Linked DNA regions of Homo sapiens: region 1 is linked to region 2. Evidence: fine-mapped expression QTL. A gene starts in region 2. The other region holds a variant in brackets. All regions are shown on one strand. Distances are from middle to middle. Region 1 holds the start of LOC124903010 (a long non-coding RNA gene). Region 2 holds the start of PWP1 (PWP1 homolog, endonuclein).

Region 1 (8,339 bases), 25 kb after region 2:
TGCTTGTGATTTTTGCACATTGATTTTGTATCCTGAGACTTTGCTGAAGTTGCTTATCAGCTTAAGGAGATTTTGGGCTGAGACAATGGGGTTTTCTAGATATACAATCATGTCATCTGCAAACAGGGACAATTTGACTTCCTCTTTTCCTAATTGAATACCCTTTATTTCTTTCTCCTGCCTGATTGCCCTGGCCAGAACTTCCAACACTGTGTTGAATAGGAGTGGTGAGAGAGGGCATCCCTGTCTTGTGCCAGTTTTCAAAGGGAGTGCTTCCAGTTTTTGCCCATTCAGTATGATATTGGCTGTGGGTTTGTCATAAATAGCTCTTATTATTTTGAGATATGTCTCATCAATACCGAATTTATTGAGAGTTTTAGCATGAAGGGCTGTTGAATTTTGTCAAAGGCCTTTTCTGCATCTATTGAGATAATCATGTGGTTTTTGTCTTTGGTTCTGTTTATATGCTGGATTACGTTTATTGATGTGTGTATGTATGTTGAACCAGCCTTGCATCCCAGGGATGAAGCCCACTTGATCATGGTGGATAAGCTTTTTGATGTGCTGCTGGATTCGGTTTGCCAGTATTTTATTGAGGATTTTTGCATCGATGTTCTTCAGGGATATTGGTCTAAAATTCTGTTTTTTCGTTGTGTCTCTGCCGGGCTTTGGTATCAGGGTGATGCTGGCCTCATAAAATGAGTTAGGGGGGAAAGAGTTTTTTAAAAACAGCTTTCTCAAAAGATGTGGACAATTTTAGTAAGATTCATGAAGTAATGATTCTGAGATACTTAATCTCAATTCTGCACGATTAGTAGAGGTGCATGCTGTTCTAGCCAGGCAGCCTGAAGCCTGACTTATTTTTACAATGATCATTCCAGTTGTACTTGAATGTTGTGTTGTACTTCGGCTCTCACTCTTCAGGTACGCAACTTCCAGAGATTATTTGCTAACAAATGGTCATATATATTAGAATCCCAAATATTTAGGGAAGTGAGAGGTTAAAGTAGATGAAATGGTTCACCTGCTTCCCTCTCATCTCAAAAGAAGAGCCAAGCCTTCTCTTCCCTGGCCTAGCAGTCAGACTGCCTCAGCCGTCCTTTCTTTATCCTTTTTTCTTGTACTGGCTGTTGCCCTTGGCCTGTATACAGGCTCAGGTTTCTGTCTCCCATTTTTGGCTCTGTATCTGTCTCTTAATTCCTTCATTTCTTCTTTCTTTCTTGACAGTGTAACAATGCACTCTAATCTGCCTTTCATTCCTAAGTTCCTTATCTGATTGAATTTCTCTGCCACACTGGTCGATTTGACTGTTGGTCACGCCTTGGTTCCTTGACACTCTTCCCTATCCCTTCTTCCCTCTCTGACTCACTTCTGTGGATGCTTCCTCAGCCTGCAACTTGAGTAGCCATGCTCACCAGGCCTGTGTTCACGTGGATGTAACTATGGCCTCTTTTCTTCTACTGCTCTAGCCCCATTCCAGACCATTCACCACAGCTTCATACTCATATCCAGTAGACATGTCAACTGAATTAGCCCATGTGAGTGCAAACTCAGGTCGTCCAAAAGTAAATGATTTCTGTCCATGTTAATTTTTCATAAGTTCCACCAGTAAGTCATATAGCTGATTTTCACTATGACTTAGACTTTTTACCCATTGTTAGATTTTGTGACGTAGCATGACCTTGCCCATCTTTTACTCTTTCTAGGCCAGTACAGATGACGGCTTTGTATATAATTTGGATGCACGTTCAGATAAGCCAATTTTTACACTTAATGCACACAATGATGAAATCTCTGGTGAGCAAGAGTAATGCTTCTTTCATTTTTCTTAACTTATGATGAAGTAAATCTGTATTTCAAAGCGAAAGTGTCTAAACTTATCTTCCTTTAGGTCTTGATCTTAGCAGTCAAATCAAGGGCTGTCTCGTGACTGCTTCAGCTGACAAATACGTGAAGATCTGGGACATCTTAGGAGATAGGCCAAGTCTAGTTCATTCTAGGGACATGAAAATGGTAAGAATCTCCCTGGGTATCTGTTTTTTATTTATTCTGTTTCTGACCTTGTCTTTTTCTGGAACTTGTGTTGCGTGTTTTTCTGTTGGAACTATTGCATTAACAAATATGGATGTGTTGGGGAAGTGAATTTTGAGTTTAGTCAAATTTGGTGGGATTTTATGACTTAGAACGCTTTGTGGGGAATTCAGTGACTGGTTCTTTTCCAACTCACATGATTAACAGTTGCTTGGTAAGGCTGGGGAGAGGGTTTTCTAGGACACAAGTGAAATGGCTGCTTTTTTTTTTTTTTTTTAAAACCCTGAAATCAAGACCATCCCAAGAAATCTTGAACCTCAGGGCACCGTAGCTATTAGGGTCAGTTTATGTATCTTTATCTCTTTGCATAACTAGTTCTGACTACACTGAAACAAATTACTATATAGTAGGAAAAATTTAGAAATAACCAGATTCACTCAAGAAATATTTACTGAGCACCTACTGTATGCCAACCACTGAGTTATATAAGTTAGACTGCAGACACAGTAACACTGCACAGCTGTTGAAAATTGTGTATGAATAAATATATATAAATATAATGGAAAAACAGGTTACAGAAGCAATTTTTGTAGTACCATCTCATGCTTATTTTTAAGTGCATAATTGCCTAAATGCTTACATTTAACTCTAGTAGATTATATCCCAGAACATAAACCGTGGTTACCTCCCTGAGAGATTTTCATATATTTTTCTTGTTCATATTTTCTATAACAAATATATATTACCTATTAATAAAAATGTAAAAAAGAAAACAAAGTTTAAAAATGATTTAAACTGGCATCATTGTTATTGTTTAAAAGGACAGCTAAAGTTTCTGGAAATACATGGCACATTAGGTTTGTTAGGAAATCCCTAAGAGACAGAGTGATAACGAAGATGAGTGGCCTGAGTGGTCAGAAGTTGCAGATATCATTGTGGAAGAACCAGCATGCTGCGCTTGTCTGGCTTCATATTGTAGTACTAGCCCTTCTGACTTGACTCTGAGCTACCTTTGCAGTAGGCTTGAAAGTGAGAATCATAAGTTGGTTTTGAATAACCATTTAAATCATAGATTCTTAGAGACAACAGTGAGGATCTAGATATTAGCGCTTTCTGAAGAGATTGAAATCACCATCTTCCTGTTCTCTCTCTAGGGAGTTCTCTTCTGTTCTTCATGTTGCCCTGATTTGCCATTTATTTATGCCTTTGGAGGTCAAAAAGAAGGGCTTCGGGTCTGGGATATAAGCACAGTCTCTTCAGGTAAGGATTTTTAGTTCTCTGCACACCTCCCCCTGCCCCTGTAAAAAAAAAAAAAAAAAAAAAGACAGGGTCTCACCATGTTGCCCAGGCTGGTCTCAAACTCCTGGCCTCAAGCAATCCTTGGTCCTCAGCCTTCTGTATAGCTGGGATTACAGGTGTGAGCCATCATGCTGGCCTCTCCTCTTTCTGAATGAGTTCTGTAAGGACTGACACAGAATGTGTGACTTGAATTGTTTCTCAGCATTTTGGCTAAGACCAAGTGCAGAATGTGTGTCCTGACTACATCAGGAAGATAGCAAAAGTAGTGTAGTCTTTTTAGGAAAGAGACAAGATCAGATGTAATTGGTAATGTTTGTTCATGTTCACAAATAAGTTTGTCTTCACACTTTTAAGTGTAGATCATTTAAGGCCGAGACCAGCTCGGTTGGGGAGACCCTAACCCAGTGGCGCTAGAGGAATTAAAGACACACACACAGAAATATAGAGATGTGAAGTGGGAAATCAGGGGTCTCACAGCCTTCAGAGCAGACAGCCCCGAACAGAGATTTACCCACATATTTATTAACACCAAACTAGTCTTTAGCATTGTTTCTATAGGTATTAAATTAACTAAAAGTATCCCTTATGGGAAACGAGGGATAGGCCGGATTAAAGGAATGGGTTAGGCTAGTTAACTGCAGCAGGAACATGCCCTTAAGACACAGATCGAGATCGCTCATGCTATTGTTTGTGGCTTAAGAATGCCTTTAAGCAGTTTTCCACCTTGGGCAGGCCAGGCGTTCCTTGCCCTCATTCGTAAACCCACAACCTTCCAGCTTGGGCGTTAGGGCCATTATGAACATGTTACGGTGCTGAAGAGATTTTGTTTATGGCCAGATTTTGGGGGGCTTGTTCCCAGCAATTTAACAAATACATATCTTAAAATTGAAAGATCTTTGGGGAAAGCTGGAAAGAAATATAGCATGGTCTCAACAAACAGCCCTCTCCCCCACAGTTACCAGTGTGAATAAATCCACCGTTTGCTCAACTATAAAATTCTACAAAATCCAACTTTCCGGAAGGGGCCACTCCTCTCCCTTCAGGGGATCCTGGCTGCTTATTTATTACTTTGAGGTAGTCTGGTGCGTTCTACAAACACAGAGATAATATATATATCTCCCCACTGTATGATTCCTGCATCCTCCCTCCCATGCAAAACAAGGATCCTGAGATTTTTCTCTGGGTTATTCTGATGTGTGTGAGTCCTAAGTCCGAAAAGTTCTGTGCCGGTTATGATCAGAGAAAAGTGAAAGAAAAAAATAGGAAGCAATCAGAAGTAGAATAAGGCCAGGAGAGGGTCACTTATAAGGAATGGGACATTTGTTACCAAGGCGGATCAGATAAATCCAAGACATGGCAAAGAAAGTAAAGTACAAAAATAAATTGGACCATTTAAAAAAATAATTCACTTCATTCAGAACATTAACTTGGACTTCTGAGTTGGTTACTCACTTTACCATTTATAAAGTACTAAGTGCACAATTCTGCATTTTAGTGTCTTTTTATATTCTGACTTAATTTCCTGATCTGTTAGTTTCTTACCTGTTTATTTGTATTTTAGTAAAT[G/A]AAGCATTTGGAAGACGAGAGAGGCTTGTTCTTGGGAGTGCAAGAAATTCATCTATTAGTGGCCCTTTTGGCAGCAGGAGCTCAGATACACCCATGGAGTCTTAATGAAGATCATCTAATTTCCTGCTTACCTTAACTGGGAATTTTAAAAAGTTGGCCTAAAAATGTTCCATGCGTGGCAGCAACCATGCAGAGTGACTGAAACACAATTCATTTCTGACTGACATTCCTTTCTGCAACTGCGGTGGCACCACAAATATCCGGTCTTTGTGCTTGCTCTTCAGATGGATGGTTTGTAAGGCTCTTGTTGCATTTCTTAAAAAAGAGTAATAAAAAGGATTTTTAAAAAGTAATTCCTTAAACATACCATCTGTCACAGTTAATCTAGATTTGTAAATAGGTAGTAATTTATAGAATTTTTAAAGCGTAAAATCCGGTAATATTAAAAGATAGGTAAACCTAGGCCTGGAAAGGCTGTTATTTGGCTAAAATTGCACAGGAGGCCATGAACAGAGGCAAGTGCCCCAGAGACTCCACTTTCATTCCTAACTGTTCTCAAATTAATGCTCATGATTGAGTATTCTCAGTGCAACTCGTAGAGTTTGATAAGTAAAAGTTACATGCCCCTGTTTTCCTAGCATGATATTCACTGTTATCAAAGACAAGAGGCAGACCATTCATTCATTCTCAAAACACTGAATGCCATTCTGTGCCTAGTGCTATACAAGGCATGGGAGATTCAGTGTGAATAAGTCTTTGCTCTCCACCTAACAAGGGACAGTTTTAATTATAGATTGTCTTCCTATTAAGTATGAGTTTTAGTAGGCATTAAAAATCGTAATTAGTTTGATAATATGAGACCCAACCCTAACTTGCCAGAAGAGTAATCAGTTCATGAACCATTGATATTTCCTGTATATTTCATGAATGTGACTTCAGTCATTCTAGTGTTAATACTGTGGAATGTCATTGGTGTAGCAACGTGGGTTCACCAAAACACCTTTTTATACAAAAGACAGATGTGTGAATTAAAGAGATTAAAGGATAGAGTATTCTGTTTCTTTGTTTTGATTTGGCTTTTAGGTATTAAAATAAGGCCCAGATCACTAAAAATTAGTAACAGAGGGAGACCTCTAATAGATTTAAAGTCAGTTAATTCTCTCTGAAATTTGATGTTTTCTTCTATAAAGAATAACTCTAAAATAGGCATCTTCCCAGGACTTTCCATTCTCAGGAAAAGACCTAGTTACGTATAAAAAATAACTTCTACTGCTTTATGTAGTCATATAGGTCTGCCTAAAATAAGAATTTGTATTTAATAAATACCAAAATTTTCAAATGGTAAATGGGTTGACACCTCTGTTTCCAACTTGAAAGTGCTAGTGCGATGAATGCTAAGCATGGGGTGTTTTCTGAGCCAAAAGAATGTGCCTCTGAAGTAGCTGGTTAGAGCAGATCTGAGCACCTGGGACCAGAAGAGTGCTGGCCGGGACCTGCAGTTACTGCTAAAAGACAGTGCAGGCAGTGGGTAAGACATCTGAGTAGACAGGCAATAGGGGTAGTCAAGCTGTGGGAACTAGGTAAGATGGGGATTAAAATCCAAGCCCAGATTATAAATGTAAAAGGAGGCTCGATTGTGTCATACTGACTGAGGAAAGGGTTCCACATCACTTCCCACCGTGGGTACATTTTGCACCTAAGTGTGGGTAGATCTGAGCCCAAAGATGTGTGGCTTAGAATGCCTGTCTACCATAGAAAGTGGGGGAATGACAGGTAACATTTTCACCACTGGTAGTTTGTTGGTGACTGGTGTTTTCATTACATAGCACATGGAAATGCCATGGAGCCAAACATATTTGTCAAAGTGAAAACCCGATACTAACTTTTAAACAATTTTACCCAGATGGCTGGGCACGGTGGCTCAAGCCTGTAATCCCAGCACTTTGGGAGGCCAAGGTGGGCAGGTCACCCGAGGTCAGGAGTCCAAGACCAGCCTGGCCAACATGGTAAAACCCCGCCTCAACTAAAAATACAAAAATTAGCTGGGCATGGTGGTGGGTGCCTGTTAATCCCAGCTACTTGGGAGACTGACGCAGGAGGATCAGTTGAACCTGGGAGGCGGAGATTGCAGTGAGCCAAGACCATGCCATTGCACTCCAGCCTGGGCAACAGGAGTGAAACTCCGTCTCAAAAAATAATTACCCAGATGTAGGCAGGTGCCAGCTAATTATATCTGGGAATTCAGATTCTGCAAAACCCACTGTTTATAAAGTAGAAATATCAACTTCTATGATACTATATTCTATGAGCATTATACAGGTAGAACTTAAAGGCCTCAATTTTTCAGGACAACCCAAACTACATCTTATGAAGCTCTTTTCAGTAAAGGTGGTATATGAAATGTATGCTATACTCTTACATACTCTTTTAGGTGGAGGAGGTTTTTGTTTGTTTTTTGTTTTTGTTTTTTTAGACTGAGTGTTGAGTTGCCCAGGCTGGAGTGCAATGGCATGGTCTCGGCTCACTGCAACCTCCGCCTCCCGGGTTCGAATGATTCTCCTGTCTCAGCCTCCTGAGTAGCTGGGATTACAGGCATGTGCCACCATGCCCAGCTAATTTTTGTATTTTTAGTGGAGATGGGGCTTCACCATGTTGGCCAGGCTGGTCTCAAACTCCTGACCTCAGGTGATCGCCTGCCTCGCCTCCCAGAGTGCTGGGATTACAGGCATGAGCCACCGTGCCCAGCCAAGGGAGGTCTTTTCAAAGTAAGTACTTTTAAAACATCCTGTCAGAACAAATAGCCAGATTTTGTTTCAAAAACAACTTGTTTCATACTTCCATTTCTAGATGTGACAGTATAGCTTAAGCAAAAGCTGAACAGGAGGCATGCAACATCTATTTGAAGGCACTGAAGTGCTTCTAAGGCAGCCAGGACTTGAGGGCAAAGATCCTGGGAGAAGGGATGTGCAGAGAATTAACCCCATGTGATGATGCTGATTTTCTTAGGCATTTACCAATTTTTTGTTGTACAAGGTAAGAAAACTGAGAAAAGCAGCAGAGCAAAAACAAAAATTGAACTTGATTTCAAAAAGGAAGGTCTCTAAAAACACTCCAAGCTCTGCCACTGTGACCCCTCAAAGGCTATACCCCAAAAGTTGAGATAAACCAGTAGAGCTAACCTTAGGAATCTGAAGCCCAGCCTTGAGTAAGCTCAGTTTTTGACTGGATTGAGGTGTCCCTGCTCTACTTTGACAGAGGACAGGGTGAATCCTCCCTGGAAGAGGATAATTTCATCCACAGCTTCTATAGTTTTTCATACACAATCTCTAGCATTCCAGCAAAGATTTCTAAGCATACTAAGAAATAGCACCATGAGAAAGATAGACCTGTAATAAATTCACACATTGGACTTATGTTGGACATGAACTTTGAAATAGGCAGGA
Region 2 (8,339 bases):
AGGTCAGGCCTTACTGGGGAACCGCAGCCCAGGAATCTATTTGCCTCCTGATGCCATTCATGGCCCTGGCGCTCATCCCCAAGCCCGCTCCAAGATCTGAGCAGGTTCCAAGAGAGGAGAGAAGTCAGGCAGCAGAAGCAGACAGCCCTGAGTGACAGAGTTGTGGGGGCCCTTCCCGGGCCCCTGAGGGCACAGGCTATATAGATGGCCCAGTCCTGCACCTGAGAGGGCAGCCACAGCTGCACCCTGGGAGTTCCCACCCCGCCAACTTGGGAGGGGCAGGGATCCCACTTGTCCCCAGCTCCTGCCTGCTCTGCGGAGCAGGAGGCCCAGGTCTGCAGCCACTGGTCGGGCGGCTGCAGCTGCACCTGGGAGGGCAGATCCTGCCTGCTCCCGCCACTCCCACCAAGAGCACAGGGAGCCCCAGATCCACAGCTGCAGTTTGGGTGGCTGCTGCCTGCTCTGTAAAGCAGGAGGCCTGGGTCTGCAGCTGCAGTTTGGGTGACTGCAGCAGTACCCCGGGAGCTCCTGCCCCAACTCAGAAGGGGCAGGGCTCCCACTGGCTCCATGGAGCATGCAGCCCCAGCTGTGCCTCCTTGCTGTAGCTGGCATGATGGCAGCAGCTGCTGCCATCACTGGGACCACAGGTGCATACCACCATGCCCAGCTAATTTTTTTATTTGTAGAGACAAGATTTTGCTGTTTTCCAGGTCGGCCTCAAACTCCTGGGCTCAAGTGATCCTCCTGCCTTGGCCTCCCAAAGTGCTGGCCTCTCAAAGGAGGGCAAAGTGGATTTAGGCCGAGCCACGGAGCCCACCCTAAATCTGTCTCTTTTTAAAAATGGCAAATTTTGTGTTATGTATATTTTACTATAATAAAAATTATGGAAGGATTTTTTCTTTTAAAGTTAGTGGTTAGAAACAATCTTTTACTAAGCTCACAAATTCTGGGGGTCAGAAATTTGGGCAGGGCACAGTGGGGATGTCTTGTCTCTGTTCCATGATGGCTGGGTCTCAGCTGAGCAAGCTCAAACGCTGGGAGTGAATCAATGTCTGGGAGCTGGATTCACCTAAAGGCACTTTCATTTACAGGTCTGGGTTAACTCAAAAACTACAACTGTCTACTGGAGTACCACATGTGGTCTCTCCATGTGGTTTGGTTTCCTAACAGCATAGTGGACTCAGGGTAGCTGATATGGTTTGGGATCTGTGTCCTTACCCAAATCTCACCTTGAATTGTCATAATCCCCATGTGTTATAGGAGGGACCCAGTGAGAGGTAATTGAATCATACGGGCGGCGTTTTCCTGTGCTTTTCTCATGATAATAAGTCTCATGAGATCTGATGGTTTTATTAATTAATTAATTTATTTTTATTTATTTTTATTTTTTGAGACAGAGTCTTGATCTGTTGCCCGGGCTGGAGTGCAGCAGTGCGATTTCGGCTTACTGCAACCTCCGCCTCCTGGGTTCAGGTGATTCTCCTGCCTCAGCCTCCCAAGTAGCTGAGACTACAGGTATGCACCACCATGCCCGGCTAAGTTTTATATTTTTAGTAGAGACGGGGTTTCACTACGTTGGCCAGGCTTGTCTAGAACTCCTGACCTTGTAATCCAACTGCCTCGGCCTCCCAAAGTGCTGGGATTACAGGCATGAGCCACTGCACCCAGCTGAGATCTGATAGTTTTATAAAGGGGAGTTCCCCTGCACATGCTCTCTTCTTGCCTGCTGCCATGTAAGACATGCCTTTCTTCTCTTTTGCCTTCTGCAGTGATTGTGAGGCTTCCCCAGCCAACTGAAACTGTGAGTCCATTAAACCTCTTTTTCTTTATAAATTATCATGTCTTGGGTATGTCTTTATTAGCAGTGTGAGAACAGACTACCACAGTAGCCAAACTTTATATGGTGGCTCAGGGCTCCAAACATTAGTGTTCTACTGGTGGGCAGTGGGGGAGTGGGTGGGGGGTGTGGAAGTGGAGAAGTGGGTGTGGTGGTGGGGAAGCAAAACCTGCATCCTATTTATGACTTAACCTTGGAAACATCATTTCTGTCATACTTTATTGGCCAAAGCAGACCTACAACTACCCAGATTCAAGTTGGTGGGGGCGGGGGGGGGTGCTTTGATGGAGGAATATCAAGATCACGTTGCAGACAAACATGTGTGAAGGACTCTATTGTTGCAGCCATCCTTGAAAAATATTATCTGCCATATGGTCTTTCTAAAATGGGTTAAAAGCAAAGAAACCACAGAAGAATCATCTTACAGAAACAGAGCAGGGGGAGAAGTCTTAATGGACAAATAATCTGCCTACACAAACAATGAGCAATTTACTTCTGGGAGGATCTCTCCTCAGGCAGGGAGATTGCCAAGCGCATTAGGCTGAGTAGAGTTGGTGACAGAACTCATAGTTGTATCAGCTCCTCTGTGTGTGATCTGAGTAGGAAAGTATTTGACTACTGGGGACTCTAGCTTCATCTTTAAAACAAAGTGTTGTGAGAACCAAGTAAAATACTGTATAGAAAGATAAATGTGTTGCAAAAAGGTCCCCGAATAGAGCCCACAGGTGGACACCCCCCGTTTGACAATGCCACTGGGAAAGACCATGTGTACTGCCAGTTTATCCTTGCCACTGTTTCCCCATAGCAGCCACCTTCCTGTTTCTTTTGCTTGCCTCTCTCAGAGGTAGATGCATTGAGGGTAAATGACCAGGACAGGGCCACACAGCCAAGAGATCAAAACCCAGATTTTTCTGGGATGCTAGTTTGAGATTTTCCATTCTACAAACGTCCAGCCACTCACGAGTTCTAACAGATGACTGATCTTAGCTGAGAAGCATGACATAGATACAAGGGAGTCACACTGCCCGGGTTCATATCCCAGCTGCACCGCTTACTAGCAGTGTGACCTTTGGAAGGATCGCTGTTTTCCCAGGTGTAAAACGGAAATAAGACCTCCCACAAAGGGGTAAGTAATCACGTGATACGGCACTCAAAACAGCGCCTTCAACATAAGTAAGCCCTTTGTGTTTGCCAAGACTAAATCACTACTGCATAGTTAGTATATAATTGGTGCTAAATGTTTTTTTCTCACTTTTTTTTTTGGTGCTAAATGTTTTAAGGTGAGAAAGTAACATTTAGGGATGTAATGAGATGTAATGGTGGGATCTCCGTGAAACGACAAATTCATTTTGGAGAAAGCTTTTTAAAAAACGCAAACCACAAACCTCTGCCATTTGTCAGCTTGAAGTCTACGGAACTGCAAGCAAAATAAAGATTGGTGAAACTTTGCTTCTGACTGACCCCTACAGTCCCAAATATTTTCTTGGCCTTTACAAAGCCCGCAGGCATCGTCACATGCAGTCCTGAAAAGCCTTTTCTCTATACTTCACACAGCCCAGACCAGCCCACGTGGATTCCTCGCCCGGCTGCTTCCGCTTCCATTTTGTCCCCTCCTATTTCTCATTCGGCGCCTCAGAATGACGTCTGAAATGAGCGCCGACGCTGCCCAAACAGGAGCCTGCGCATGCGCTCTGCCCTGGCAGCGGCCCTGTGCAGATCCCTGAGCGTGTGGCAGCAGTGCGGTCGTGGTCCCTCCCTATGCAGCCTGGTTTCTAGCGTGACACGCCCTTGACTTGAGGACCATGAACCGCAGCCGCCAGGTGACGTGCGTGGCCTGGGTCCGCTGCGGCGTGGCCAAAGAGACACCAGACAAGGTGAGGCCTGGTCGCTGGGAGACAAGGGGAGCAGCGTCTTTACGGCACTGGGGGTCCGCCCAGCTGGGGGAACGTGGACCCGGAACTCGGGGCGTTGGCTGGTGCGACTGGCTGGGGTGAGGGCGGCTTTGCCCGGATTGTCGCGACTAGAGCTGCAGTTCAGAAGGTCTGGTTCGCCTGAGCCTGGAGAGTCAAGGGCCGCGCCTTCTCACTGTTCCCACCCTCAAGCCCAACCCCACTCCCAAATTCGCACGCACATGGACTTAGCGGGCCGGAAAGGGGTGGGCTGCTGTTTTTGGTGGGTAATACCCCAAAAGGCTTTTTGACAACACCACTAGCTTCACTAGCACCCAAGTGCATTTTCAAGCATAACTGGGAAGAGAGCATGAAAACTCCACTTTCCACTCTTGTGCTCCGTGTCTGAAGGAGTGAGGATGAATGTGGTGTAGAAAAACTGGTGTGGAGGCTAAGATGTCGTGAGGCTGGGAGATGAATAGGGAATTTCTTGCAGTAATCCAAGTGAGATGTTGATGGTAGCAGGGAGGATGAGAGGTAAATGTCTAACACATGAAAAACCTACAAGAGTTGGAGACTGAGACTGTAGCAGAGGTGACGATTACTTAAGTAATTTCCTCATTGGATACTAAGTGCTTTCTGTAGGCCAGGCATTGTTCAGGGTCCTGGGATAGGCATGAACAAAATAGAAAAAGTCCCGCCGGGCGCGGTGGCTCACGCCTGTAATCCCAGCACTTTGGGAGGCCAAGGCGGGCGGATCACGAGGTCAGGAGATCGAGAGCATCCTGGCTAACACGGTGAAACCCCGTCTCTACTAAAAATACAAAAAATTAGCCGGGTGTGGTGGTGGATGCCTGTAGTCCCAGCTACTCGGGAGGCTGAGGCAGGAGAATGGCGTGAACCCGGGAGGCGGAGCTTGCAGTGAGCCGAGATCGCACAGCTGCACTCCAGCCTGGGCGGGCAACAGAGTGAGACTCCGTCTCAAAAAAAAAAAAAAAAAAAAAAAAAAAAAAATAGAAAAAGACCCTGCCTTTATGGAGTCGACATGTGCACATATAGTATGTCAGTGGGAGTTAAGTTCTACCAAACAGTAAAAGGGGTTGATTTGAATGTACTTGACCAAGATAATGATGATGGTGATAGGAATGTGATTGGCTTGGACATGGAGTTAACAGGAATGACGGATTGGAGTAGTCCCAGTAGTTGTAAATTCCACCTGGGCACAGACTGTTTTATTTACTGTTTCTCCAGGGTTTGGTTGATGGTAGGCACTCGGTGTTACATTTATAGAATAGGGACAGAAAATTATTTCATATAAAAATTGTTGGAGGAAACAGTTATTAAAAAGAGACATATAGCCTTTCAAATACTTGAAGACTGATTTCCAAATGAATCTACACATTGAAAATCTCACACTTGGGGAGGTTCAAAAAATACTGATGTTTATGTCCCACTCCCAAGTATTGTGTTGTAATTAGCCTGTAGTGTAGCCTAAATTATTTAAGATTCCCTAGGTGATTCTGATGTACAGATAAGTCTGGGAACCACTATTTGAAGAGTTTATAGGAAAAAGAGATTGAATTTATGAAATCCTAGAAAGGAAAACTTGGACCAAATGAGAGAAATTGGACAAGCCAGTTGCGGTGGCTCGTGCCTGTAATCCTAGTCATTCAGGAAGCTGAGGTGGGAGGATCGCATGAGCCCAGGAGTTCACAGCTGCAGGGAGCTGTGACCATGCCACATCTCTTAAAAATTAAAATTAAGGCCGGGCACGGTGGCTCACGCCTGTAATCCCAGCACTTTGGGAGCCCGAGGCAGGTGGATCATTTGAGGTCAGGAGTTCCAGACCAGCCCGGCCAACATGGTGAAACCCAGTCTCTACCAAAATACAAAAATTAGCTGGGCGTGGTGGCGCGTGCCTGTAATCCCAGCTGCTCAAGAGGCTAAGGCAGGAGAATCGCTTGAACCCGGGAGGTGGAGGTTGCAGTGAGCCGAGATGGCGCCATTGCTCTTCAGCCTGGGCAACAGAGCGAGACTCCGTCTCAAAAAAAAAAAAAAAAAAAAAAAAAAAAAAGAACAGAGGACTCATGTAAGGGTGATTTGTTAAGGAATGCCCACAGGGAAGAGAGGGAGAGGTGCCCTAGACAGAGTCAGAGATGGTTGGAAGAAAACCAGACGAGTACCACACAGCCACTTTACCAAAACCAGTCTTTGGAGTTTTAAGACTAAGAGGTGGAGTAGAATGAGCATGATTTTTGAAGTTTCAGGTAGCGAGAGATCTTATTTGTAAGAATCTATAAAATCTATATTTTTTAATATAGAGTCTGGATTGATGTTTGATTCTTATCTTGATGACATTGCTTGGCGTTACATTTTACATTTGTTTGCAAACTACTTTTTAATTCAAATAATTTGATGATTTCCTTACACATATTGTAATGAAATCTTTGCTCTCTTACAGGTAGAGCTGAGTAAAGAAGAAGTAAAACGCCTCATTGCTGAGGCAAAGGAGAAATTGCAGTAAGTTTAGGACCAGATGAAATCTATATCTTAAATGATGATGACCATGTGGTCTTGTTATTAGAAGGTAGCATTTGGGTGATTCTCTTTTTCTTTCTGTGCTCATAGAGAAGAAGGTGGTGGCAGTGATGAAGAGGAGACAGGCAGTCCTTCAGAAGATGGCATGCAGAGTGCACGCACCCAGGCACGCCCAAGAGAGCCCCTGGAGGATGGTGACCCAGAGGATGACAGGACGCTTGATGATGATGAGCTGGCTGAGTACGACTTAGATAAATATGATGAGGAAGGTGACCCAGGTTAGTTTATCCACTTCTGATGGTTTGTAATTACAAGCTCAATATGTTGGATCATGTTTGTGGTGTTCCAAAGCTTTACTCTTAGATTTTATTGTTCTTGACATCAGTAAGATAATCTGGTTGAAGACTTGGGCAGACAGCATGATTCCTAAACTAGTTTAGAAGATAAACTCTAACCCACTAAGATACAAATCTAGGATCTAAAAAAAAAAGTACTGTGTATTTTATTGCATATATCAGGTTTAATAATCTGTAACCCACTTGTGAGTTTTTGTATGCAGTTATAATGCTATGGTGTGCTTGAACTTATATCCATATACCTTTTCCTCAACTGCAGTCAGTCTTCTCACAATACAGTAGTCCCCCCTTATCCACGGTTTTGCTTTCTTCGGTTTCAGTTAGCCACAGTCAACTGCAGTCTGAAAATAAGTGAGTAAAGTACAGTACTTTGGGAGAGATGACTTTCACATAACTTTTATTACAGTATATTATCATTATTTGATTCCTAGGTACATATAGGAAAAACATAATGTATATAAGGTTTGGTACTATCTGTGGTTTTAGACCACCACTGAGGGTCTTGGAATGTATCCCCCGTGGATAAGGGGGGACTACTGCCTGCATTTTGAGATGCTGTTCTTGGAGATAATTAGAAAAAGAGGCCAGGTGCACGTGACTCACGCCTGTAATCCCAGCACTTTGGGAGGCCGAGGCAGGTGGATCACTTGAGGTCAGGAGTTCGAGACCAGCCGGGCCAACATGGCGAAACCCTGTCTCTACTAAAAATACAAAACTTAGCCAGGCGTGGTGGCGCACATCTGTAATCCCAGCTACTCAGGAGGCTGAGGCAGGAGAATCACTTGAACCTGGGAGGCGGAGGTTGCAGTGAGCCAAGATCGTGCCACTGCACTCCAGCCTGGGTGACACAGTGGGACTCCATCTCAAAAAGAAAAAATCATGGGTGGGAAGAGAAAAAGGAAATAGAACAGAAGACAGATTAGAAGTAGAAGTTTGTATAGAAAGCCTCGTGGGGAATAAAGTGAGCTGAGATGACAACTACCTATATTGCTCTTCTGGGGAAAGTAGGTATAACGATAAATGGAAAAGGAGCTGACAAAGCTCGCTTTGTTTCTTTTGGAATGTGCTACCCTAGGTGGCACTAACTCCTAATCTTGGGGTTTGAGAAATAGGCATTTGGCACACTGAGCAGGTTAAGTAAGTTATTTACTTAACTTGTAAATCCCAGTTAGTCTGCATATTTGGGAGCTGAAGGGACTCCTGACAGCTAGAATCAGCTACTCCCAAGTTATAAAATCAAAATGTAGATGATCGGAAACAAAAATTAACTCTTAATACAAATGTTATCTGCAACAAAGTAAAATCACAACTACCTGTTAAATTGATGGTTAAAATATTACATAAGACATAGCAGAGCTGAGCGTGGTGGCTCATGTCTAATCCCAGCTACTTGGGAGGCTGAGGCAGCAGGATCGCTCAAGCCCAGGAGTTCAAGGCTGCAGTGAACTATGATCACACTGTATTCCATCCTGGATGACAGACACCATGTCTAAATAATAAAAAAGTTTAAAAAAGTTATAATCAGGCACTTAAAAATATCAGTATCTGTTAGAATATCGTTGAAATGCTGAGTAAAATAATATACTTTTTTTTGTGTGTGTGAGACGGAGTCTTGCTCTGTTGCCCAGGCTAGAGTGCTGTAGTGCAATCTCGGCTCACTGCAGCCTCTGACTCCCTAATTCAAGCAATTTTCCTGCCTTAGCCTCCCGAATGCTGGGA

Evidence for each region.
Region 1: its variant is fine-mapped to the expression of PWP1 in whole blood (INTERVAL, PIP 0.91).

Annotation. Positions count from the first base shown.
Region 1 is chr12:107,707,220-107,715,558 of GRCh38, forward strand. It overlaps PWP1 (PWP1 homolog, endonuclein), which reads left to right. Exons shown (of 15, transcript NM_007062.3): 12 at 1,707-1,797; 13 at 1,892-2,013; 14 at 3,186-3,291; 15 at 4,892-5,943. The coding sequence ends at 5,001. LOC124903010 (a long non-coding RNA gene) reads right to left here and starts at 8,183. Exons shown (of 2, transcript XR_007063446.1): 1 at 8,076-8,183; 2 at 5,163-5,211. The variant G/A (reference allele first, on the strand shown) is at 4,897.
Region 2 is chr12:107,682,261-107,690,599 of GRCh38, forward strand. It overlaps PWP1 (PWP1 homolog, endonuclein), which reads left to right and starts at 3,539. Exons shown (of 15, transcript NM_007062.3): 1 at 3,539-3,711; 2 at 6,188-6,246; 3 at 6,355-6,542. The coding sequence starts at 3,640. RefSeq lists a silencer at 661-918 and enhancers at 3,348-3,607, 3,828-3,877.